Linked DNA regions of Homo sapiens. The protein of the gene in region 3 purifies or fractionates together with the protein of the main gene of each other region. This does not show direct contact. Each region holds a gene or a part of one and is shown on either strand. Other genes may lie near its edges.

Evidence for each region.
Region 1: the proteins of NHSL3 (region 3) and PPP2R3A purify together in Homo sapiens (co-immunoprecipitation; one large-scale study listed by IntAct). This does not show direct contact.
Region 2: the proteins of NHSL3 (region 3) and ASAP2 purify together in Homo sapiens (affinity purification with mass spectrometry; one large-scale study listed by BioGRID and IntAct). This does not show direct contact.
Region 4: the proteins of NHSL3 (region 3) and ARHGAP26 purify together in Homo sapiens (affinity purification with mass spectrometry; one large-scale study listed by BioGRID and IntAct). This does not show direct contact.
Region 5: the proteins of NHSL3 (region 3) and NHS purify together in Homo sapiens (affinity purification with mass spectrometry; one large-scale study listed by BioGRID and IntAct). This does not show direct contact.
Region 6: the proteins of NHSL3 (region 3) and NSA2 purify together in Homo sapiens (affinity purification with mass spectrometry; one large-scale study listed by BioGRID and IntAct). This does not show direct contact.
Region 7: the proteins of NHSL3 (region 3) and WASF3 purify together in Homo sapiens (affinity purification with mass spectrometry; one large-scale study listed by BioGRID and IntAct). This does not show direct contact.

What each region holds. Positions count from the first base shown.
Region 1 is NC_000003.12:135,968,728-135,972,227, forward strand, and holds part of PPP2R3A (serine/threonine-protein phosphatase 2A regulatory subunit B'' subunit alpha), read left to right. Parts: intron 1-3,500. UniProt on the Homo sapiens protein: The B regulatory subunit might modulate substrate selectivity and catalytic activity, and might also direct the localization of the catalytic enzyme to a particular subcellular compartment.
Region 2 is NC_000002.12:9,402,312-9,405,811, reverse strand, and holds the end of ASAP2 (arf-GAP with SH3 domain, ANK repeat and PH domain-containing protein 2), read right to left. Parts: intron 2,560-3,500; coding exon 2,485-2,559; 3' UTR 134-2,484; downstream 1-133. UniProt on the Homo sapiens protein: Activates the small GTPases ARF1, ARF5 and ARF6. Regulates the formation of post-Golgi vesicles and modulates constitutive secretion. Modulates phagocytosis mediated by Fc gamma receptor and ARF6. Modulates PXN recruitment to focal contacts and cell migration.
Region 3 is NC_000001.11:32,744,830-32,748,329, forward strand, and holds part of NHSL3 (NHS-like protein 3), read left to right. Parts: intron 1-3,500. UniProt on the Homo sapiens protein: Able to directly activate the TNF-NFkappaB signaling pathway.
Region 4 is NC_000005.10:142,776,877-142,780,376, reverse strand, and holds part of ARHGAP26 (rho GTPase-activating protein 26), read right to left. Parts: intron 1-3,500. UniProt on the Homo sapiens protein: GTPase-activating protein for RHOA and CDC42. Facilitates mitochondrial quality control by promoting Parkin-mediated recruitment of autophagosomes to damaged mitochondria.
Region 5 is NC_000023.11:17,689,700-17,693,199, forward strand, and holds part of NHS (actin remodeling regulator NHS), read left to right. Parts: intron 1-2,635; coding exon 2,636-2,769; intron 2,770-3,500. UniProt on the Homo sapiens protein: May function in cell morphology by maintaining the integrity of the circumferential actin ring and controlling lamellipod formation. Involved in the regulation eye, tooth, brain and craniofacial development.
Region 6 is NC_000005.10:74,766,086-74,770,048, reverse strand, and holds the start of NSA2 (ribosome biogenesis protein NSA2 homolog), read right to left. Parts: upstream 2,801-3,963; 5' UTR 2,689-2,800; coding exon 2,686-2,688; intron 1,119-2,685; coding exon 931-1,118; intron 836-930; coding exon 685-835; intron 1-684. UniProt on the Homo sapiens protein: Involved in the biogenesis of the 60S ribosomal subunit. May play a part in the quality control of pre-60S particles.
Region 7 is NC_000013.11:26,556,503-26,560,482, reverse strand, and holds the start of WASF3 (actin-binding protein WASF3), read right to left. Parts: upstream 2,801-3,980; 5' UTR 2,664-2,800; exon of another isoform or gene 2,318-2,663; intron 1-2,317. UniProt on the Homo sapiens protein: Downstream effector molecules involved in the transmission of signals from tyrosine kinase receptors and small GTPases to the actin cytoskeleton. Plays a role in the regulation of cell morphology and cytoskeletal organization.

The DNA.
Region 1 (3,500 bases), on a different chromosome or scaffold from region 3:
CACTGATACTAGTTTTGTATATCATTGTAGACATTTTTTGTGGGCATTCAAGGAAATGCATATCTTTCCTCTTACTGTTTTACACAAATGGTAGCATACTGTACACTCTGTTTTCTTAAAAATGTCTTGGGAATCTTTCCACTTCAGTATATAGTTTCCTTATTTTTTTGAATGACTGTACAGTATTTCACTGTATGGATATACCATAGATTATTTAACCATTCCCCCACTGACAGACATTTAGATTGTTTCCAGTAATTTACCGTAAACAGTGCTACGAATATGCTGTTTCATATGTGAATAAATATATTTATAGGGTAAATTCCTAGAAATGGAATTGTTGGGTGAAATAAACACACAAACACATATATTTACATAAGTATATATTTATGTAATGCGTGTATATGTGTATATATTTGTAATTATTTGTGATTATAAAATATTCTGGTCATATTAGAATGCTTTGGAAGGAAACAAGATTGAGTGTGGGAGACAGCTGCCCCTAATTAAGGTTACTGTGGATAACATAGGAGAGAAAAGGTGGTGGCTGAGAGAAAAGAATGGTCGTATTGGAGATGGAGAGAAGTACATATATTCATGAGATATATTTAGGAGGCGTAATTGATAGGATTTGGTGGTTGATATGGTACAAGGGTTGAGAGGGAGAAATGAGATCCTAAGATGACTCCCAGGGTTCTAGCTTGCCCAACCAGTGAATGGTGGTGGTGTTACCTGAAGTAAAGAACATTTAAGGATAAATAGTTTTGAGATGAGTTTAAATCACAGTTTACATTGGGACTGCTGAGATTTTCAAGTGAGAGGTCACATAAGCATTTGACAATTCTAATTCAGAGCCAAGAGCAGAGGGCTAAACTGGAGGCACGAATTTTTAGGTGTAAATTAAAGGCTGTGGATGAAATTATCTAGGGCAGTGGTTGCAAAGCAGTAGCCTACAGCTGAATCTGACTCACAGATGTTTTGCCCATACAGTGGTTTTGTTATTGTTTAATTTTGAATTAGTTGCCAATATTTTAAAATCTGAAGATTTCTCATGAAAAATCCAGATTTGGGGTTTCTCTTTAAAAATGAGAAAATGTAGCACTACTGAGTTGGTTTTCCAATATGGCAGCAATAATTGGAGCTAAGTCACAGATGATCGCAGCTCTTCTATTTCACTACAGAGCCCACCACTCCCTAAAATTATGCCTGGCCCACTTTGCTCATTTATTTCTCTGACTGTAGGCTTTTGAGCATGTGATCCCTGGTCTGGGAAGAGAGCATAGAACAGTGTTCTCATCTTGGTTGCACATTGGAATCACTGAATGATTAAAAAATGCTAATGCTGTGGTCCACCTAAGAAATTTCTTTTTCTGTTTACTTGATCTGATTTGCTGCCTTGGACGAATCTGAGGTGATTCCACTTAGCTGTGGAAGTTGAGAACCACTGACAGAGATTAAGAAAAAAGGGCTCAGGCCCAGCATTTTGAAGTTTAGTAGAGGAGGATAGCCCAGGAAGAGAATGAGAAGTGGCCACAGAGGTACAGTGGAATGACGCCTTGCTCAGAATTAAAGTGTGCAAACTTAACTGAATGCGCTCTACCATGTTTTTTATTAAATGAGAGAGAGAAAAGTTTTATTTACTTGTATACAGGTGTGCGATATTTAACGGGCCATTTAAAGGATTTTCAAGAGTAATTTAAACAATATTTGGTTTTTGTCTTAGCTGTTTCCTTCACAATCTAATTCTAGTTTAAGATGCATCATAAAAGGTGAGAGAAGAATGTTTCAAATAGAGAGGTGTCATCAAGTAAAGATGTGGAACAAAAATGATCTGTTGAATTTAGCAAGATGGAGTCTTTGACCTCAGCAAGAACCATTTTAGATTGGAAGAGGCAGAAACCAAAATGAAGTGGGTAAAAAGTAAGGAAATGGGAGTGGCAAGTGTTGGAAATTCCTTTGAGAAGCTTGCCCAAAAAGAGGAAGTGGTGAGGGAGGATGAGGTGTCTTACATGCCTACAATGTAGGTGTTAGTCTGTTGGTTACTCAAACATTTCTCCTAACTTTTTAGGGATGTAGGTCAATGGTGTCTGATTACCCCTCTCCCACGTTCTTAGGGGTCTTGTTTTGGAGACTACTTTTTACTGAGAAGAAATTTTGCCAGGACTGTTGAAGGGGCTGACTCAGATGTTGGTGATTAGGCCACAAGTTTCTTTCTCAACTGGAAAGCTGTAGAGCTCCTAAAGGCCAGTGGTGATCTGGGCTCCAGTGACCCTGACATCATCCTCCCATTGAGCTGATGAACAAAGACTATATTGTTGGTATGCTGAAAATGGAATACTTGGCTATGTTAGGGAATGTGTATCTAACTGTGAGATTCCCAGGAATAGTTTTTGCAGCTGTATTTTTTCCAATTAACTTGATATTATAGCTTAATTTTCCAGTTGCATGCATGTAAAAACTCTCATACTTTGAAGTATTTATCATTGATGGTACCTGAGGGATATGGATGTAAGTTGGAGATGTAGGCCCTCATTGAGCTCAGAAAGAAGAAAGCACTGAGCAAACTGGTTTCCAAAAAGTTGTGTGAAGGCTTCTACCTCGAAGACTTGGTGTTAGAGTGACTATTTAGGATGGGTTGTAATGCAAATGGTCACAACCAGTTTGTCTTTTATCCATTTCTGCCACATTGGCAACCTTAACCTAGCAGAGAGGCTTTTAAGGTCAATTTTGTGCTTCATATTTCTAAGAGTTGTAGCCTGCCAACAGAACAGAAAATATAAGGGGTGGAAAATGCCAAGAATTATTGGTTAAGAATGGTTTTGATTAATTGAAGGCATAAACCTCATTGCTATACTCTTGAAAACAGGAATATCATCTTGTGAGGGACCAGACTTCATAGCTGTCATTGGTTTATCAGTTAGGTGGATGATGGTTAACTTCTGTATAAAGGATGACTTTGTGACATGAAAGCAGACCTTGGTCCAAGATGGTTTGTAATGTGAGTCCATTATAAGAAAATATCTTATTTAGAAACTTGTGTATGCTTGGACAGCTGTGGGAATTCCATCATCACAAATATGGTTAGGTACTATGCCTGGCTGGCAGTATATAGAGGCAAAAGTCCATTACCAAGGTGGTCCAGAGCTCCTTTGGTTTGTGGAGGAAACAGGATAGCTGAGTGGGGAGAGGACTTGGAGTCAGTTCCTGAGTATAGTTCCTGGATTTGTCAAGGGTGAACTGTGTGATTTTTTTTAATTGAGGTAAAATTAACCATTTTAAAGTGTACAAATCAGTTACTTCAGTATGTACATTCACAATGTTGTGCAGCCATCACCGCTAATTCTGGAACATTTTCATCACCCCAAAAGGAAACCCTGTACCCATTAAGCAGTCACTCGCCATTCCCCTTTACCCCTACCGTCTGGCACCCGCCAATTTGCTTTCTGTCTATATGGATTTGCCTGTTCTGAAGATTTCATATAAATGGAATCATACAATAT
Region 2 (3,500 bases), on a different chromosome or scaffold from region 3:
GAGAACCTTAAAAGATTACCGCTCATGCTAAAAGTATGTAAAGATCCCATGTACAGTATGATAGTGTACTTTTTTTAAAGGACTGTCAATATACAAAACTTTAAAGATTAAAAACATTAAAAATAAAACCATGTCCATTTAAAAGTATTTTATTTTTTTCCAGTCAAATGACTAGTTAACAAGAAGAGTAAACTTATTAAACATGCTCTAATTATAAATCACTGCATTAAGGACAATGAAAATAATCAATTTCGGTTATACAATATATACAGTTGTGCTGCAACCAAAGTAATCAGGTGAATGAACTGAATATCATACATCTCAAAATAGCATCCTAAGCTGCATATTATGTTATCCACCCCTTAACAGATCACACAGTTACTCTTAGTCTGTGTACATGTTCTGAGCCATCATCCCAGATCTGATGGAGAATGGCATGCAAAATGCCAGAATCCTGCAGCTGCAGTTCATGAAACATAAACTTTAAATATAAATAGATATCTACAATGTTTTTCTTTCTCTTAGTTGCTTTTTTAATTTGCAAGGAGCAAATAACTAAGAAAGGATATTAGCAGGGTCGTTAATATAATTTCTCCTCTGGTAAGAGTACTATTAGTTACTGCACAATAGCACCAAATTGTAGACTGGAAAAATATTTCCTAGGTATTTATGTACCAGTGAACCTGACAGATTAGTTTGGGACTGGAGTTCTAATGTTGATATGAATCAACTTTATTCCTTATATAGCTGGCACCAGGTGGTCAAAAGGCTGACTATAAAATACAGATGCAGGAGGATTGTTAAAATAGACATAAGTGCACTGTGCAAAATACATCTGTTTACTTAAATCTATGAGAAAATTAAATGAAGGGTTCAAACAGAAATTAACAATTAGTGAAAACAGATGTAGTGCTTTAAAAAAAAACAAAAACAAAAAACTACAGATATAACACATTTTTACCCGGAACTTTGAAAGGTAAAAAGCGATTGCTATACAACATCATAAAACATTCCAGTTTGTTCTGTCTTCCTTTATAACAAAAACAAAAAGTACAATGCCAAAAAAAAAAAAAACTCTACACAGTCTTGCATAATAAAGACAAGCTGCTTCAATCAAATGCACCATCACAACAAATGCAGTTAACAGCATTGCTGCCTCACTTTCCAAGCCTATATGCAAATTTATTCCTTTACTTTTGTTAAAAGTCCAAGTGGGTATCATATGCCTATTTATTCTCAGAGTGCCAAAATTTCCAATATTCCTACTATGAATCTTACCCTCGCAATTACTAAATAGAGGTATGACAGTCAAGTTCATTAAACGAATGAGTTTTGGTTTTATAATAGACAACCTAATCCTCTACTACCACCCCAAGTAGCTTAAGAATGATATGATGGCCTGAAACAGTAAAAAGTGGGATGTTTGGGAGTATTACCTGGGACCTATATATTTCTGATATGTTCTTGATTATAAACAGATGGACAGATTCAATTTCAAGACAGTGTGACTACCATTCCTGTTGGAGTATTATAGAAATACAAGACACTAAACTGAGTAAACATTCTCCTGGGCTAGAAGGGAAGGCAGTGGTACACTCAGTAGGAAACAGCAAGTGATGTGTTAATACAGCATGGTCTGCGCCACAGAATTCTACTGTGTACAGTTGCTTTCTGTGTGACTCAGGAAGTTCAAGAAGGCAAATTCCAAAACACCTAAAGCATATAAACTAATTTAAAAGAACTGTTTTGCAATCCATCATCCTTAGTTTTTAACCAAATTCAGGAAATGCAGTTTTATATAACCTGGAACAGAATGAACTGTAGTTACCCTACGTTGTCATAAACCATCAGTAGTTTTGTTAAGTATGATTGTTCACAACAGGTTATACATACATGCAGAATATAATGATAGCTGCAACCTCACAAATTAGGGCTAGAAAGTACAATGCTAATGTGTAAATTTCCAAGTTGCTTTTTAAACACTGGGTGGATTTCAAAGGAATGTGTGTCTTTAAAGGTGAACTGATGGCATTTTATCGAGAAAGTTCAGAGCTGGGCTATGGACTTCTGAAGCAGCAGTTCACTGGCCGCCTAAAATAATAATTGTGATAAAGGTCACCAACTCCAGAACTGGGCCAAGGAATGCAGGAAGAATTTATTCATTAATGCAAACATTTTTAGGTTTAGCTAATTCCGTAGAGGCAGGATCTTGATTATGTATAATAGTTAAAATAACTTTTCAGTTCACCTGTTGGGAAATTCAGTTTTTCCTAATAAATGCATAGCAATGTTTCATGAAAACCACAAATTATAAAAACAATTACTGATATGTAAAAATTGCCTCTGAGTTTTTAAAACAGAGCAGTGGCATTAGAGAACATGGGCTGCCATACAAACAGTTCATGAAACTGGTTATCTGGCAAGAGTTTTGGTACCAATAACGAAACAGGAACATAACTGTTAATGCTTTTGTTCAGTAGCAATTCAGTCAGCGATAAAGTGCACAAATGACACCGGGAATGCGCCTTTGCGACCAGGATCTCCATCAATGTGGCCAATCTGAAATGGAGAAAAGTGTAGGTTGTTATTAAAATTCCAAATGTTGGTGGAAACTTTGAAGAGCATTACATAGAGCGTTTGGTGAAGAAAAGCAAGATTGGTTCAGAAGACTCTTCCGACAAGGAATTACTTAGGTAAAACATCCAAATGATTTTTGTCCGTTTTTCCTCACCACATTTCAAATAGTGCAGGCCTCTCCCGTGTAAGGAGCTCTTCCCAGCCATGTCCCAGATGTTCGCTCGTGGGGATGGCCACCCCCACCTGTTCTTGGGAGGCACACAGGTCAGCTGTCTGACCACTACTTCCCACTTGCCATTTTTCAATGAATGAATGAATGAATGAACTGAGTGTCACAAGTTTGTGAGCTGCAACGTCACCTAAAGTGGCAAAGGTATAAGTTGGCCCCATTTCAATGAGTTAAGTACTTGTGGAAGGCTTCACTCTATCCACTTATGTTCCCTCTTGGGTAGATACATAAATTATATCCAAATATGATCTCAAGAGTGTAAATGATGTAGGCAAATAAAAGGCTAAAAACAGCCAAAATATGAATGGTGGGCTTTTTGTGGAGTGGGTGGGGGGTGCTGTGGTTATGGGCAACTTCTGTTTTCTTCTTTATGCCTCTATTTTCCAGTTTTGGAAATGAGCAGGTATTTTCCACATGGCTAAGCCTGTGGTCAGGTTGGCGCCCCTTCCGGATGGTGGGTTGTGGGCAACTGTGGGAGCTGGCTGGTTCCCGAGTAGCTGGGATTACAGGTGCCTGCCACCACACCTAGCTAATTTTTTGTATTTTTAGTAGAGAACCATGTTGGCCAGGCTGGTCTCGAACTCCTGACCTCAAGTGTTCCGCCTGCCTCGGCCTCCCAAAGTGCTGGGATTATGGGCGTGAGCCACCGCGCCCAGGCCACAGACACTTTCAATCCATTAAGGGCAAACGAGGC
Region 3 (3,500 bases):
AAAATTATATTAAAGGCTGGGCGTGGTGGCTCATGCCTGTAATCCTAGTATTTTGGGAGACCGAGGCGGGCAGATTGCCTGAGCTCAGGAGTTCGAGACCAGCCTGGGCAACACGGTGAAACCCCGTCTCTACTAAAATACAAAAAATTTGCCAGACAAGGTGGCGTGCACCTGTAGTCCCAGCTACCCGGAAGGCTGAGGCAAGAGAATTGCTTGAACTCGGGAGGCGGAGGTTGCAGTTAGCCAAGATTGCACCGCTGCACTCCAGCCTGGGCAACAGAGCGAGACTCAGAAAAAAAAAAAAGAAAAAAAAAAGAAAATTATATTAAAGAGAAGTAACCATAGAAATGCAAGGGGTTGCTATGCCTGTGTTTATAAGTTTAGTCACCTGAGCTCTAACGACCCAGTCTGGAAGGAATGGGCTCTGGGCCTAAGAACAACTTTGCTTGACTGGGCGTGGTGGCTCACACCTGTAATCCCAGCACTTTGGGAGTTTGAGGTGGGTGGGTCATGAGGTCGCGAGTTTAAGACCAGCCTGACCAACATGGTGAAACCCTGTCTCTACTAAAAATACAAAAATTAGCTGGGCGTGGTGGCGCGTGCCTGTAATCCCAGCTACTCAGGAGGCTGAGGCAGGAGAATCGCTTGAACCCGGGAGGTGGAGGTTGCAGTGAGGCGAGATTGCACCACTGTACTCCAGCCTGGGCGACAGAGCGAGACTAGGTCTCAAAAAAAAAAAAAAAAAAAAATGGACAACTCTGCTTCCCTGGTCTGCCCCTCTCAAGCTACAAGATGCTGGCAGGTTATTCACCCCTCCAAGCCTCAGTATCCTTATCTGTAAAATAGGGATAATAAATCCTAGCTTTATAGGGGCCTTTCCAGGATCAAATGAGCTAACAGACATGCAAGTGCGTTGTGAACTGTGGAGCATGGTGCAGCTGGCAGCAGGTTTCTGCTGTTGTTATGCTGCTGAGGACTTGAGCATTAGTTAAGTTCACCCTGATCCATGTTTGGAAAACAGCCCATGATGATGATGATTATTGAGGGGGATTCACAGAGGATAGAGTCTCACCTTTGTCCCACAGGAGGACTCAGACATAAGAAAAAGTTAAAAAAACAGGCCAGGCACGGTGGCTCACGCCTGTAATCCCAGCACTTTGGGAGGCTGAGGCGGGCGGATCACAAGGTCAGGAGATTGAGACCATCCTGGCTAACATGGTGAAACCCTGTCTCTACTAAAAAATACAAAAAATTAGCCAGGTGTGGTGTCGGGCGCCTGTAGTCCCAGCTACTTGGGAGGCTGAGGCAGGAGAATGGAGTGAACCCGGGAGGCGGAGCTTGCAATGAGCCGAGATCGCGTCACTGCACTCTAGCCTGGGCGACAGAGCGAGACTCCAGCTCAAAAAAAAAAAAAAAAACAAAAAAGAACAAGTTAAAAAAAACAAAAACAAACAGGAATCCATATCTTCCAGAAATATCACCTGGACTCTAGACAAGTGTGTGGGTAGGAAGTGTTTCTGGGACAGATGCCAGGATTGGAGCCCAGCAGATAATCAGGGGAGGCTTTCTGGAGGAGGCGAGCGCCTATGGAAGGAGGGCAGGGTCCTGGCTAATCTGAATGGGAAGAGAAGTAACAGGAAGGCTGCTATGTGCTATATATACCCTGGCCAGGCATTTTCATCAAAGTCTTCCTATGTCCTTACAGCAACCTGGGAGGTGGACAGTTACCACCATTTGTAGGTGAGAAAAAAGGGGTGAGAGTAAGTAGCCCGAGGTCACTCAGCTTCATTTATTTGAAGAGGACATATTCTTTACTCTGGAGTGTAAGGCACTGTTCAAGGTGATGTGAATGCCAGAGGACCAGACAGGCAAGGTCCCCATCTATGTGGAAGTGAGGTTCACAGCATCACAATGACGGAGCCACTCAGTCTGCCTCCAGAGGCCACACTCTACAAAGAAAATTATATGATGATGGCTGTGTTTCTGACTCTGGAGGCAGGTAACCTCTCTAGAGTTTTAGACAAAACCAGTTTTGGGGAAAGGGGTATGTAGTCCTCCTGAGGGTTTCTCTTGTGCAGTGGGCAGCGGCTGAGGGGTGGGAGTAGGCATGGCTCTGATACTGAGAATTTGAGAGCTACCCTGCCAGGCCTAGCTGACTTAGCCCCATGTTAACTCCAGTCAGTTCACTGTGGCCTCTCCAAGTTCCCTCTGGCCACTCAGGGAGGACTGTCCTTTCATGGTGTGGAGTTGTGGAGAGAACCCTGAGTTTGAGTTCTGCTCTGTTGTATGACCTTGGGTAAGTCCTGCCCCTCTTTGGACCAGACATGCCCTGTCTTGACAAAGATGGTTTTTTTTTTGTTTTGTTTTGTTTTTTGAGACAGAGTCTCACTCTGTCGCCCAGGCTGGCGTGCAGTGGCGAGATCTCAGGTCACTGCAACCTCTGCCTCCCAGGTTCAAGCGATTCTTCTGCTTCAGCCTGGGACTACAGGTGAGTGCCACCGTGCCTGGCTAATTTTTGTATTTTTAGTAGAGATGGGGTTTCACCATATTGGCCAGGCTGGTCTCGAACTCCTGACCTCATGATCCGCCCGCCTTGGCATCCCAAAGTGCTGGGATTACAGGCGTGAGCTACCGCGACTGGCCGACAAAGATGGGGTTTAATGGCCTCTGAGACTCTTGCTAGTTCTAGGATTCTGTGAGTTTGAGAATGGGCTGAGGGAGCAAGCCTGTAGGGGCTGGGGGCTAGGCATGGAGATGGGAGCTGTGTCCAGGAAAGGAGAGCTGACCTCCAGCCAGCCAGATAAGACACTGAGACCCAGTGGCCTGGATGTCATAGGAAGGGGAGTAAGGTGGCTGGGCGTGGTGGCTCACACCTGTAATCCCAGCACTTTGGGAGGCTGAGACAGGTGGATCACTTGAGGTCAGGAGTTCAAAACCAGCCTGGCCAACATGGTGAAACCCCGTCTCTACTAAAAATACAAAAATCAAAAATTATGGCCGGACACAGTGGCTCACGCCTGTAATCCCAGTGCTTTCGGGGGCCAAGGCGGGAGGGGATCACCTGAGGTCAGGAGTTTGAGACTAGCCTGGCCAACATGGCGAAACCCCATCTCTACTAAAAATGCAAAAATTAGCTGGGCATGGTGGCATGCATCTGTAATCCCAGGCTACTCGGGAGGCTGAGGCAGGAGAATAGCTTGAACCCAGGAGGCAGAGGTTGCAGTGAGCTGTGATCACGCCATTGCACTTCAGCCTGGGCAACAAGAACAAAAAGCTCCGTCTCAAAACAAAAAACAAAAATTAGCCAGGCGTAGTGGCAGGCGCCTGTAGTCCCAGGTACTTGGGAGGCTGAGGCAGGAGAATCACTTGAACCCAGGAGGCGGAGGCTGCAGTGAACTGAGACCACGCCACTGTACTCCAGCCTGGGCGACGGGAGTTCAACTGGGCAACAGTTTCATTCAAAACTCAAAAAAAAAGGAAGGTGGGTAAGGAGAGTCCAT
Region 4 (3,500 bases), on a different chromosome or scaffold from region 3:
TGGTCCAGCAGTTTCATTTCTAGGAATTTGTCACTCATGTGCCTCATGCCAGAGGTGCCAGGATGTTCACAACAACATTACTTGCAATGGTGAAAGGTTGGAAATAATCTAAATGTTTATTATTAGGGGAATGGTTACATACACTATATTTAATTCATACAATAGAATACAATGCAATCTAACAATGAGTGAGCTCTCTATGTACCAATGTAGAATAATATCTAATATATTAAAAGCAAAGGGTAAAACAGCACATATGGCACAATGTGTATGTGTATTTGTTGGCACATGCATAAATTACATCTGAAAAATACCAAAGAAACCAATAAAATGCCTCCAGAGGAAGAAGTGGGGATCAGGAGACAGGAAGCATTGGAGGGATATTCACATTCTCTTTTGTCTCTTTTGAATTATGAACAACTTATAGGTATTACCTATTTAGGCAACCCTTTTAAAAAGAAACATAGCTATGAGTTAAAGTAAAAATGCCTTATTTTATTTGTTCGACTAATATTCATTGTCTACCCCTGACCCACAAGTGTGATAACGAGATACGCAGTCAGGAATTTGCTAAGGCTTTGGTCCTATCTGTTTGACAGTCTCCTTGGCACAGAAACAGCCAAAGTTCAACTCAGTCAGCTTGGAGATCTATCTGAAGTCTCAGAGGAGGAGGCAGTTCATATTTTCAAAGTGTTCAAATTAGCCTGCAGTAAACTTAAAAGCAGATGTGACAGCAAGATCAGATGAGTTTTGAAACTTACCAGCGGTATCTTTTCAAACCATATAAAATAGGAGTTTTTTGAGCTTTTGCTGTGTGGCAGCAGCAAGAGTCAAAGAGTAGCTACTGGCTTGGCCCAGAGAAACCAGCTAGTTAACAGTTTGGTGTGGAATTCACAAACCCCTCAAACCTTTGTCTATCTGGCAAAGAAAACACACACACACACACACACACCACCCTAACCCCAGGAATCTCCTCTTTCTAAATATAGCAGGAAACTGCCCAGTCTCCAGCTTACCCAGGGCAGCATTCTGTGCCTTCCAATCAAGGTGAAATGAGCCAGACACAAACATGCCATGACAGCTCGTGGCCCACACTGCCAAGCTGTTTTCCTTACCATTTCCTCTCTCTCCATTCTGAGGTGCTACAAAAATGTGTAAACCCCAGTCACTATAATTTGTAAAAATTCCTCTGGCTGCTAATGCTGTTGTTCTCACCCTAAATAAACATGATTTCCTTCCTAGTCCCTGAGCCTGGAGGTTAGAATAGACTCTTAGATATGGGCAAAGCCCCATCCCATCTCCCATCTGACCTATAAGAACATGCCACTCAGAAAGCATATCAAGCAGTTCCAGGGCTAATAGGGACACATCCAATTAATTGTCATCTCTCTTTCCCTGGCACACATACACACACACTAAGTTTTTTTTTTTTTTCTATCCCTTGGTTGTTTTAAAATCAGTGTCAGTGTCTAACAGAAGGGTCTGTTAAGGATGCTTCTGATTTAACCAAAAGATTAAGCTTCAGAAACAATCTAACATACTCAAAGGAGCACCAAATTATCAACCGGCTACAAGGATGCAAAGGACCTAAACAACAGATGTCAAAGGGCTTGTAAAAACTGGAGCCAGCAACCATTCCACTTGAAGGAATCCATCTCAGGGAAATGCTGGAATCCACACACAAAAGCAGGTGTGCAAATAATCACTGCAGCACGCCTTCTAATAGTGAACAACAGAGACAATCCAAATATCCTTCAACAGGAAACTGAGTAAATACCAACTATGGCATATCCACATAAAGCTCTCTGCAGTCATTAAAAAGAATGCACTACATGCATGTACTGACATGGAAGGTCTTCAAGACAAATGATCAACTCGAAAAGCAAAACACAAAATAATCCTTATAGTATAATCCCATTTATGAAAAAAACACGCAGAAAAAGGACAAGAAAAAATGCATACCAAACTGCTAACAATGATTGTTAGCTAGGAAAAGGGGGTGCTTTTACACTGTATACGTCTATACTCTTTGATGCTTGCATGAGAATGTATTCAGGAACTATCCATGTCATAATATTTTGTCTTTGCATTATAAGATTAGGTCATTCATTCATATTGTTAATTTTACCCCTAAACCTAATCCTTCCCAAGCAAACTATTTTAGCAAATAGTACCATCATTCACATAACTGCTCAGGCCAAAAATATCTGAATCATTCTAGACTTCTTTCTTTTCTCTCATAGCCCATATGCTGTGCAGCAAATCCTGTGGGCTCTACTTCCAAAAATACCCAGCCTCTGACCACCATCTGTGATGCTGTCACCCTAGCCCACGGTGCCATCATCTCTCACCTCAACTATTACAACAGCTTCCTTACTGGTCATCTTGCCTCCATTGTTGCTCCACTACGCTTGGTCTCTACACAGCTGCCTACATAATCTTTTTAAAGTATGAGTACGATCATGGCACAGCCTTCCATGGCTGCCCATCACACTTAGAATAAAACTCTAAGTCCTTTCTAGAATTCAAGATCCCTATGACCTTGCCCTGGCCTATCTCTTTGTGCATTCGCCTTCACTCTGCTACAGTCACAACTGGCCGCGCCACTGGCCCCCAAACATCCCACTCAATCTCCCCGCTAATGACTCCTACATTGGTTACCTCCATCCAAAAAGCCATTACTCTAGTCTAGGGCTCTGGAGGACATGGTAAAGGCAGAGCAGGGTCTCCGTATTTCCTGAACGAAACTCTTCTTCTGATGGCAAAAAATATATAATTTGAAACAGAAGGGGTTATAATTTTAAAAGGTAAAACGAGGCTCACTCAGAAACTTAAATCTAGAAAAACTACTTTGACTGCTAGGTTAGTATTCCTCCACTGGCTAATTTTTAGAAATGCAATGACCTTGACAGGATAACAAAGTCCCCTTTACAACTTGCTTTCCCCAGTAGCTCAATGGTGATAACAGTTCTTCCTTGGCCGGTTCTCATTTTGTCCATTGAGAGGGCTTGGATCATTAGCTTATGCAGGCCAGAATTAGGAAGTCCAGCCTGTGTGGCATCTGCCCAGAGCGATGCCCACTGGCCTAACAAGAGCAGAAATCTGAACCACAGCCTCATAAGAACCACTTCCTAATTCCTGAGATCCTGAAACTGATCAGTTAAATACATCTAAGGTTGAAGCACATGGAAACAAATAGTCCCCAAAAGAGGGCAAATGGAGAAAATATACTAAGTGCTGTTCACTTAATCATCAAAAGTTTTATGAGACAAAGTAAAGGAAAAAAAAGATCTGAATAGACATTTCAGCAAAGATGACGCACCAATGGCCAACAAACACATGAAAAGGTGCTCATCCTCATTGGTCACCAGGATAATGCAAATTAAAACCACAACGAGATACCACTTCACACCCACTAGAGTGGCTACAATCAAAAAGAAAGACAACAACAAGTATTGGCGAGGATGTGGAGAAATCAGAATCCTCATACATTGTTGGTG
Region 5 (3,500 bases), on a different chromosome or scaffold from region 3:
CAAGTTTTGCAAAAAACTGGTTGAACATTGAGGGCACAGGATGACTATAAAGGAATCTGATCGTTCTCACCAAATCCTTTCTCAGGTCCCATCATTAGAAATCTTGGGTAACATTAGCCCTTTAGGTATAATTATTTTTATCCCTTTATTTTATTAATAAGTCATCCCTGATTAGGATTTTATGGATTCCACCAGATAACACCAAGCTGCTCGTAAACTATCACATTTCACTGCTTTGTCAGGTTTAGACTTAAAGCAGAACTGAAGAACAGCAAGTGCCGATATCAATTTTCTCTGAACTTCCTCCTGTGGGGCGGTGAGAGAGGGATGTGGGGCCTCCTGGGGTTTGGAAGGAAGACTGTGGAGATGCGTTTTACCCTCCACAGACTGGCTTGTTTTGCGGTTGGCTCAATAGCATATCTTGGGTGTAGTAGTTTTAATAGCACTGCAGAGAGCCATAAACAAGAATTATAGCCATCATGGAATTAAAAACATGCAGTGTAGAATTAAAATTAGAAAGTGACTTTTTTTTTAACCTTGTCCAAGAAACACAATAGCATACTGCTGTATTCATCAGCATAATCTGCTTCTGCCATCTGGTGGCCATGAATAATACTGACCTATCAGACAACTGCCATGCTCAGCAAATGCTGCAGTGAGCATCCCTGTAGGTTCTCTATTTGGACAGCTGGAATAGCCTTGCTTCCACCATGAGGGAGTGGATAATGAAACACAGACAAATGAGGCTGTGGTGACAGCAGCTCTGTGCTTCTTTTGGAGGTGAGACTGTAAGGAGAGAGCTGGAGGACCAAGATTAAAACCTAGAAATTGGCTGCCTTCAAGATCTGCTTGATAGCAAACCCCCCAACAAATTTTATTGAAGGCAAGGGAGTGTTGTAGAACCTAAGAGTCAAAAAGCAATAACGTATGCTGCCCACAAGGAATCCCTGGTCTAGTGGAGAGACAGACAAGTAACCAGGTAATTTCAATACAGTGATAGGGAGGCTAAGAAGAAATGTACCAAGTCATTTCATAGAGCTTCAGGGAGGGTTTTGTGGAGGATGTAGCATCTACATGTATTTCAAGTTATTTAGGCTCTGATTACTTTTTTTCCCCCTTAGTAATTCTTTAATGCTCAGAGCCAGTAATGGCTTTATGTGATGCTATCATTTATGTTCATAAATCATGGAGAGAGAGATTCATAAGCAACTATAAATAGATAATTATATTTTATATTTCCTTTCCTTTCAAGTTGGAGGCTGCAGCATAAGTTTCATTGGTCTAAGGGAATAAGGAGCAAGATTCCACTGCAGTTTCAGGCTGTAGTGGACTAATGTTCTCCCTACCTCAGCACCAGAAAAAGGTATTATTAGGGAGCCATTAATCTAGCCTGCCTACTCCCAGCCTAGAGCAAAGAAAGATATATGTTTAAGATTGTGTAGGAGGGGAGCGATTGAATGGAAAATTGAGTTGATGTCTCCCTTCCAACTACTCCCCTCCTTTCACTTCTTCCTAACCAGTAACACCTGTAAGTGACTCTTCTGTACGGATTTAAGAATGTAAACACTTTTCCTTGTGTTACCCATTTAGAAAAGCCCACTGTTTGCTTGCATAATGATGGTGGCATTGGAGGTGGGCACTTTAACAAGGAAGACATTTATCTTAAACAGCCTTCGGATAAACATTGACTTTGGAGGCAGTTTAGCAAAGACTACCTACATGGTTTTGAAGACTTTGCTCTGATTGCTTATGGGAGCCAACATTTGTCAGAAGAATCCCAAGCAAAGGGAGATGGGGAATACTATCACATCTTCTAGACACAGACACTACGTTCAGGCAGCGAGGCACACGGACAGCCAAGTCAGACATGGATAGAATCAGAAAGTTCAAGAGTGCTCAGTTCCTAGTTTAGGGGGCAGCACATTGAATGGGGCAAAGAAAATGGAGCCAGCATTGGGCAGGCCTGTCAGAAACAAGTAACAGGACCTAGAAAAGCGCATGGCAGTAAAGGCACCCACCACAGCCCATTCGAAATACAGAGAAATGTAATACATTCTAATTTTAAAAGACTAGACTTTAATGAAAGCATAAATTCACTCTCAGTCACTCAGCAAACATGTGATGTAAATACTCCCAACATGAGTTATTTCCAGGTACCAACAGTTGAAAAATGGACTCACACAAATTCCTGAATATGTAGCAATCAGCTCCCCTGAGCCAGTGACAGCCAGCTCCCGTACCCAGTGGGTGGGCCGGGCAGCTCTGTTTTGTCTGTGCCTACTTTCCACTCCAGTACTGATGGCAGCAAATCTTCCACTATGTTCTCAACTTTTGTTGTTGTTGTTGTTGTTGCTTATGTTGTTTTGAAATAAGTCACACTGAACTCAGAAGTGAGCCCTCTTGTACAGATTATGAGATGGATCCACTGAAATGTATGCATCCAATTTCATATTAATAGTAAGTGAAAGTTCAATTAAAAACCATTCTGAAAATCTTATTTGGTATTCAAATTAGCTAAAGTAATGAAAACTCACTTTTTTTTTTTTTTACAGCCTTTTGCTAACACTCCCAAGGGGAAAAGAGAAATTGAAAATGCCAAGTGTATTTCAGTATTACTGCTTTTTCTCCTTCTCAGAACACCGGAGCCGGAGCGATCGCCGAGAGCAAAGAGCAGCTGCCCCCCTTTCCATTGCAGCTCCTCCACTGCCAGCCTACCCTCCAGCTCACAGCCAGAGGAGGCGTGAGTTTAAGGACCGTCACTTTTTAACGGTAAGTTTGGTGGCCACCTGCAGCCCTATGCTTGCTGCTGAGGAAACATCAGTTTGTCTGGGAGTCAGTTTCCTGCCTCCCAGTGAGAGAGGCTGGGCTGGCTAAGAGCTCAAATCATGGGCATTTGGGAACAAATTAATTTCCCTTCCTTTCATTCCTGAAAGAAACGCCTCTTTTTTGGAATACAGACATATTTTTTAGTTAACTGGTAGCACAATGCAGTAAAGCAAGAATAATTACAGACTAAAATCAGGAAAAAAAATACATACTTCAAACCTCGGTTCTTCTGCTTGCAAGCTGAAGGATTCAGGATAGGTTACTTATGTTCTTTGCCCTCAGTTCCCTCATCTGTAATATAGGGATATTAATAGTACCTGGTTTATAGGGCTAGAGGATTAAATGAGATAAGGCATGTAAAGTGCTTAGCCCAATGACTGACTGATACAGAGTAAGACCTCAAGAAATGTTAACCACAGCTGCCACTACTGTTATTACTGGTAAAGTGACAGCATGGCTGACTTGGTGGGGTGAACTGGTAAAGAACTTAAGTGATACGAAAAATTACCATTTGAAGAGTAATCATGTCATCATTTCATGCTTTCCCATTCTCCAAAGGAGGCTAGTTCTCCAGGGTAACTTAATACCATGGTGACGTCATCGCCTCTGGGGCTTTCAGCCCTGACCAGATGGATGTGGCTGTAACTCAGCCCAAGCCCTCAAGCATGGGTCAC
Region 6 (3,963 bases), on a different chromosome or scaffold from region 3:
GATAGTGACTTCTATAAGCAGTATATGTGTTTACTAATGTTTAATAGCATAATACTGGAAGAGTGTTTCCACCTCTTAATATGTCTCTGTATTTCTTCCCGAGATGGATCTGTAGATCACTAGCAAGACAAAATCCTCACCAGATGTTTTATGCCTCCCTTGAGTGCAAATTCTATGAAAAAACTGAAATAGTGTAAGGCAGTAAAAATAATTCTTTAAATATAAATACTGCATATTCTTTTATCTGGATTTCTGCTAATCTATTTACAGGTGTTTTAAAAAGCCACATTTTTTGTGACAACTCAGGGAGTTTTCCACCATTCTACTTTTTAACCAAGTTTGGCACTACAGGGCAGCACAAATAAGAAGCATTTGTATTTTTCTTTATGACTGCATAGCACTGTGGGTTTTCAAACAGGAAGACAAATATTGAATTTGAAATTCACTCCTTACCAGCTTTTTAATTTCATATGGCATTCTAATAAATTTTTTTTATAACTTAAATTTTAAAACCTTATGATGAGAAAGCAAGTTTTTTATTAAATTTACAAAGACTTCAACATCTAAATAATGGGAATAATAGCTGTACTTCATGTTTGAAATTAAACCGAGAAACAAGAACCTCAAATTTGAATTTAAGTAATTCTCCTAAACAAAACAAAGACTTCAATTGTTATTGCTTACCGCCTTCTCTTTTCTTTTCTGTTTAATCATATTGGAAAGTACTTTAGCTCGAGATTGTCCCTCTCTGTCCAGCAGATAGGCAGGTACTGCTCCCTGTGGTGTCTTTTCATCATTCTTTTGTTTGGTGTTTCTCTTTTCATGCATCTTGATACTACCAAGAAGGAAAAAAGATTCAAGATTATCTGTTTTAATAATGATTACTCAAAAGATGTTAACTTGTTATGACAAATAAATGAGACCACTTACGTCTTTTTCATTTGTATTTTCTCAGCATGACGCTGTTTATGGTAAAGCTTAGCCTTCAGACCAATCATTTTCTTTGCCTTCTTTGAACGTTCATGAGCCTCTCGACTTTCCTTCTTTCTCTTTTTCTCATGGTAATCCAAACGGTATCCATAGCGTTTACGGTGTAATTCAATATATTCATTCTGTGGCTATAATGATGGAAGAAATATTATTTTAATTTTTTAAAGTACTGACAATTATTCTAAAATGCTTTCTTTTACACAGCACAAAGACCCTGTTTCATCCAAATGTTCACTTACTTAAATGATTCTTGCACCATTAAGTTTATTCACATGATGTAAGTTAAATTTTGGTCTTGAATGATATGAGGCATCAGGGCTTACATCTCTAATAATCTCATTAGGGAATGGTCCAAAATCTACTGGACCACAAAAGGGATGAACTGATTACAGTATCTTTTTTCCTTGACATAATTTGCTTTTTTAATAACACCTTCATTTCACATTTAAAAAATTTAAGTCAGTTTTATTGAAGCATAATTTACACACAGTAAAACCTGTCCTTTTTAGGTATACAGTTCTAAGTTTTTCCTAACTACACAGTTCTGTAACCACCACAATCAAAATACAAAGAATTTCCATTTCCCCCTAAAATTCCCTATGTAACTTTTAAGTCAATCCTCTTTCCCAACCCTCAGTTTGATACCTATCCCTACAGTTTTGCCTTTCCCAGAATGAAACAGGGATCAACAGTAGTACATAGCCTTTTGAATCTGGTTTCTTGCTTTTGGGATTCACCCAATTTGCTGCAGGTATAGGAACTTCAATCCTTTTTATTGTTGAGTAGTATGCTATTGTATGGATACACCACTGTTTACCCGCTGACCAGATGATAGGTATCAGGGTTGTTCCCAGTTTTGGGTGATTACGAATAAATCTGCAATAAACAACTGCATGCAAGTCTTCATGTGGACGTGTGTTTACTGCCAGACCGTTTTCCAAAAGTGCATTATTTTTCTTTTCACCAGCAATGTATGGGATGCTTTTTGCATTTTAGACACGTTTTAAACACGCGGCCAGGCGTGAGTCTATTCGTATTTTAAGGCTGCAAAAATAAAAATGATACAAAGCCAAGTCCAGCACAGAGAGCAATGTTAAGTAACAACCAACAAGGTGTGCTGCTACCAACTGCTATCACATAAACTTTGCAGCAATCACATGAAGGGTGTATGGAATGCCATTTTGCAAAGAAACGCAGATTATAGAGACGTAACACAAAGAGAAAGGACCTGGCAGTTAGATCTGGGCCGTTAAGCCCGGCTTCGCAATTCATTAGCTGTCTGGTCTTTGGCAAGGACGCCTTCAGTTTCCTCAGCAGTAAAATGAAGGGGGCGGGACTGACATCTAAGACTGTACAAGGGACAACCATATTCCCATTAGGCTCTGGGGCTGATAACCACGCTTGTGGTGAAATCAGGAATTTTTAGGACTCTTAGCGGTGGATCAAAAAGAAAAAAGAAAACAGGACAGAGTAAAATCTTGCTCCAAAGCTTGTGTTCTGGCAAATACCGTCTGTGTCTCGAATGTGAAGTTGTTTCCACTCCTCAGAGCCCACCCCACGGGTCTACCATCCTTTTCTCTTGGCAGTTCTCATTTCCGCCTACCACCGCTCACCCCCTACCCCAGCGCCCCAGAGTCCTCAGGTCCCACTAACTCAGACGCTGTGTGTCGCGAGCGTCCGAGGCATCCTCCTTACCATGGTGACGGCCGCAGAGCCGCCAGGAGCAGCCGCTGGAGTGCGAAAACGCTCTCAATTTTCGGGTCTCAAAGACCCACAAGCCCACACCACGCAGGCCGGGACAGGAAAGAGTCACCCTTTAAAACGGCCGAGTGAAGAGCAAGAACCACGCAGCGGTTCCGAGCCTCTGTTTTCCGCTTTTAGCTAGGAGGACGGAAGTTGCTGGCAGGCGGCATTTGGCCGGTACACCGCCGGAAGTGTGGAGGTGTGGCTGCCCGAGGCGGTAGAGCGGAGAAAGCCTATTTTCTTTTCGTTTAGATACATTGCCTTTTGCCTAGGCTGGCGTCGAGACTTGAGGCCGTTGCAGACTTTGGCGCGGCTCGCGCCTCCTGCTTCAAGAGCCCAGCGGTGAGAGCTGGCCTGCGGCACGCGGCCTAATGCCAGGTGAGTACTGCTCCGAGCTGTGAGACATCGCGCGCCTGTGACCCTGTCACAGCGCTGGGTACCGCTGACCTTTCAGGCTGCGACGGACACAGCCAGCCACGGAAGAGGACAACAGGGCCTCCGGACTCCCCTCGGTGTTCGCTCAGTATGGAAGTTTTTCTCTATCATTCGGCGAAGTCGACTCATCTTTGTTCCGGTCACTCTGTGTAATGTGTGCATGATTGTGAAGGATACTGAGGAATGAAAACTTAGTGTACAGAAAAATGGAACTACTGGGGCTTTGCAGCTGTTAGAAAAGAAGAAGATAACATTCTGGTTTTTTGGAGGTACAGGACTGATTCCAGAAATTTCTGAGGCATTTTGGTGCACCGAATCAAATGCTGAGTGGACTTGTATTTAGTGGCCCCCTAGTGTCAAGAAGTAATTAACTACCAGAAAGTACGTCTACTTAAATACACTATCAGGTTTACCCTTTTACTGCACAGTTGCAGAAGTTCCCTTAATTACTTCACAGCTTGCAGCGTGATTCAGTTGATGAACAAAAAGAACTGTACCAAAAGAATACTTTCATTAATTCTTAGTGCTTGTATTTGAGGCAGTATTTTGTTTTTGTTTTTGTTTTTATGGGTATTTTGAGACGGCATCTCGCCCAGTCGCCCAGGCTGGAGTGCAGGGGCACGAGCTCGGCTCACCGCAGCCTCGACCTCCCGGGATCAAGCGATCCTCCGACCTCAGCCTCAAAAGTAGCGAGCTACAGGCTCGCGCCACGAAGCCTGGCTGATTTTTGTAGTTTTTGTAGAGATGAGGTTTCACCGTGTTGCCCAGGCTGGTCTCGAACTCCCGGGTACGAGC
Region 7 (3,980 bases), on a different chromosome or scaffold from region 3:
CTACAGTATTAAATGGAAAAAATCCAGAAGGATACACCCTATATTATGGTTACCTCTGAAGAAAGAAATAGGAATAGGACAACAATAAGACGGGAAAAAGAAAACTTAAGACTTTTTACCTCTATAAATCTCTGTGTTGATATTGTTTATTTTATAATGTACATCATTTATGTATTACTGGCATAAAATATTTCTGTATTACCAGCATAAAGTCAAGCCACAGGTAAAGAACCAGCCCTGAAGAAGAATGTGTGGGGCTGTCAGAAGCATTTAGTTCCACATGCCCAAGAGCAAAGCCAAAAAAAGCCTGACTTGAAAGAAACAGGGCCCTTAAAACGGACTGAGAAGAGAAGTTGAGAGATTCGGCCGGGAGCGGTGGCTCACGCCTGTAATCCCAGCATTTTGGGAGGCCGAGGTGGGCGGATCAACCTGAGGTCAGGAGTTCGAGACCAATCTGTCCAACATGGTGAAACTGCATCTCTACTAAAAGTACAAAAATTAGCCGGGCATGGTGGCGGGCGCCTGTACTCCCAGCTACTCGGGAGTCTGAGGCAGGAGAATCGCTTGAACCCAGGAGGCGGAGGTTGCAGTGAGCCGAGATCACACCACTGCACTCCAGTCTGGGAGACAAGAGCAAGACTCCGTCTCAAAAAAAAAAAAAAAAAAAAAAAAAAGAAAGAAAGAAAGAAAGAAAAGAAAAGAAAAAGAGATTCAAGGTCTACAGCAATGGAGAGCCACCCAAAGTGAAAAACAATCTGGGAGTACTCTTCAAAGAAAGTCCTTGGAATTCCAAAGACGATCACTAGTACTAGCCCGTGAGTAGGGACAATTCATTTAATACTTGCATTATAACGCAATTGTTTTAATCAAAACATCCCAATAACCAAAAGGTTACCTGCCATACATAGGTTTCTATGGGAACCGTAACGTGTGACTACAAAGACACACTGACAAGAGATAGGAGGTTACAATGTTGGCATGACCACTTAGCAAAGTGTGTTCCACCTTTGTTTTCGTAATTGTTGAAGATAGTGAAGCACATCATTGACTATTAGGTTGTAAATTTTAAAGCAAACAGATTTTTTAAAAACAAATGCTATTAAGCAACTTCATGTCAGCCAACTGGAAATGCAAGAACAATTTCTATATGTACATAGTTCTAGAATAAGCACAGGTTGGAAGGTAAATATAATAGTTGACCAAACTTTCCAATATTTAAACATGTGAAAAGACACAGCTTTTGTGAATACCAACTAAGAAAATCTTTCAAGATGAAGAAAAATGAGTACTACACTGAAGTCATTAGAACCCTGGGAGAAGGGAGCTGGAGAGGACACAATGAGAATGCCTTTGGGAAAGGTCAAACCCAGCTTTCGTTTGTTTAACCTCTCAAGCAGATAAAAGAACTAGCTTTAAAGAACCACTGCATTGTTTAACTGCTAGAAAAGGAGAGTTGGGTAAAGCACATATAAAAAGAAGCAATAGAATTTGCCCTAGAGACAATAGAAAGATTAGTCAATTACAATACTTTGAACTTAGTTTTGATAGAGTCGCATTTTAAGCTTTAGATAAACCTAATTTTTAAGATGCAAAATATTTCAAATAGCTATCCTCTCCCCCTTATAAAAAGTAGACTCTGAATCTTAAAATACCATGTTCTGCTATGCATTTAATTTGAAGAACTGCGAAAAGTAGTCTTTTTAATTTTCAGTTTTTGAAAACTCGAGACTGTTGCTGGAAGTAAACCGCTAATTTAAAAATTAACCTTAAAATGAGAAAGAATTCCTATGATGCTCCCATTGATCCCTAAGCCCATCACATAGTTTCTGAATAATTAAGAACTCTCGTCTCCACCAGGGAACTCTCCCTTGCAGAGGGGCCAAATCAAGAAGCAATCGCCATTGCACGTCAGCACCACAAACTGAGAGGAAGCTTCTGCCCTCGCTAAAGCCCAGGCGCGCGGGTAAAGACCCCCGGGGATGATACCCCGCGCGCCGCGGCTCCGTGCGCGCGGTCCCCCGCACTCGCGGGCCGCCCCACCTCCTCCCCTGCACTCCAAGAGTCCGGCCTGGTCTCCGAGGCCGGGAGCCACGCGGCACCGCAGCCTCGAGGGAGAGGACGCCCGCAACCAACACGCACGCGGGCACCAAGAGGGCACAGGCCAGGGCGGCGAGGGCCGAATGGGGCCGGGGGGCACGCGGAGCTGGACCAGAACCAGCGAGGGCGCGCAGACACTGAACGGATGCGAAGGTCCCGGACGCGGAGCGGCCCGGGGCGTCGTGCGTGGGGCGCGAGCGGAGGCCCGGGCGCCACTTACGGCGGGGAGGGCGGGTGGCTGTCCCGAGTCCAGGGAGCGCGCACCGGACGGCAAAGGGCCGGAGGCCCGGAGGCGCGGGAGAGAAGGGCCGCCTGGCCGCGCCGTGACGGCGAGAAGCCCCTGCCAGCGCGGGAGCCGGCCGGGAGAATGCGGCCGGGCTGCAGGGATAGGCGCGAGGCGGCGCCGCAGCCCGCAGTGGGCCCCGCCGCCCGGCCGGAGCGCGCGGCGATGCAGCAACTTCAGTTCGCCGTGGGGCCGCCCCTCCCCCGACAGCCGCCCGGCCCGGAGCCGAGAGGGCCACAGCAGCCTACAGCGGAGAGCCGGGGCGACCGCAGCCCTCACTCACCGGTCCGCGGTCCCGCCGCCGGCGCCGGGGCTGCGCTCTGAGCTCCATGGTCCCGCCGCGCCGCGGCCGCCCGGCGCACCCGCCTCGCACCACACCGCACGCAGCGGCGCGAGCGACGCCGCCTCCGGCCCGTCCACGGCCGCGGCCACGCCCCCTCCCGGCGGGGGGGCTCGGCCGGAGCAGGAGGGGGGCTCAGTGCCGGCTCCACCAACCAGGGCCAACTCACGGGGCCGCTTCACCAGGATTGGCGAGTGCCTCGGCCAATAGGGAGCCGGCGAGCGCGCTGAGCGACGGTGCCGAGGGGCGGGGGATTGCGGAGGCGGTGGCTCTCACCCTTGGTCCTCCGCCCCCAGCTCGGGATGAGGCTTAGGCAGCGTCCTTTCCAGCGAGGAGAGGTGGGGATACTTCGGGCCAAGAGACCCTTGTATCACCTCTGATTGCTAGGTGCCCATTACAGTACCTTTGAGTTTGCGCTTATATCCTAATCCTCCCTGGGTGTTGAGGGCTCCTGCACAGAGGTCCTCTACCTGTAAGGTGTCAGACGTCCTCCAGGGCTGAGGCTTCAGGCAACCCTGAGAGGACTGTAGCCCTGTTCATGGGTTGGTTTTATGCCCTGCTCAAATTCGTTAGCATTCTTAAAATCTTCCCATCTCCTTCAACACAGATTCTTCTGTTTTTATCACCCTATAACCAATCTCTCTCCACCCTAGATGTGAGGAAATCCACAATACTTATTAAAACTAAGATATCCCTGAAACTGCCAGCTAAGCCCTGCCACAGTGGAACATAGCCACGTGCGACCAGATGACTGAGGCATAAACAAACTTAAGAAAAAGAAAGGAGGAAAGGAAAGGAAGAGAAGAAAAGATAGAAAAGCCAAGATAGAAAAGCTAGGTCACAAAGGAAAGGGGTTTAAAAACATCTAATAGAAATGTTACCTTTATTTTAATTTGCATGCCTTTATTCTTTTTATTTACCAATAGGATCACTAAATTGAAAAACTTTTAGGAAAAAATTTTAAATTCTAATGAATAGTTCAAGAAACACTAATTCAAGTTGGTTTGCTCTTTTCTTTACAGATGTGTAATAATGATCAACATCTAGCTAGAGACAACTAAAAGTTGGAAAAAATGAATAGCAGTTAATAATTTCACCAAAGTTTGCAACACCAGAAATGCAGTAGAAAAATCATGCAGCCCTCTTCATAAAATGTCTAATCTATTAACCTGCATTACTTCCAAAGGAGGGATTTTAAAAGCTCTTTTTAAAGATGACGTATATTCAGTTTCCATAAAGTGCCATCATTTTAAAAAATTG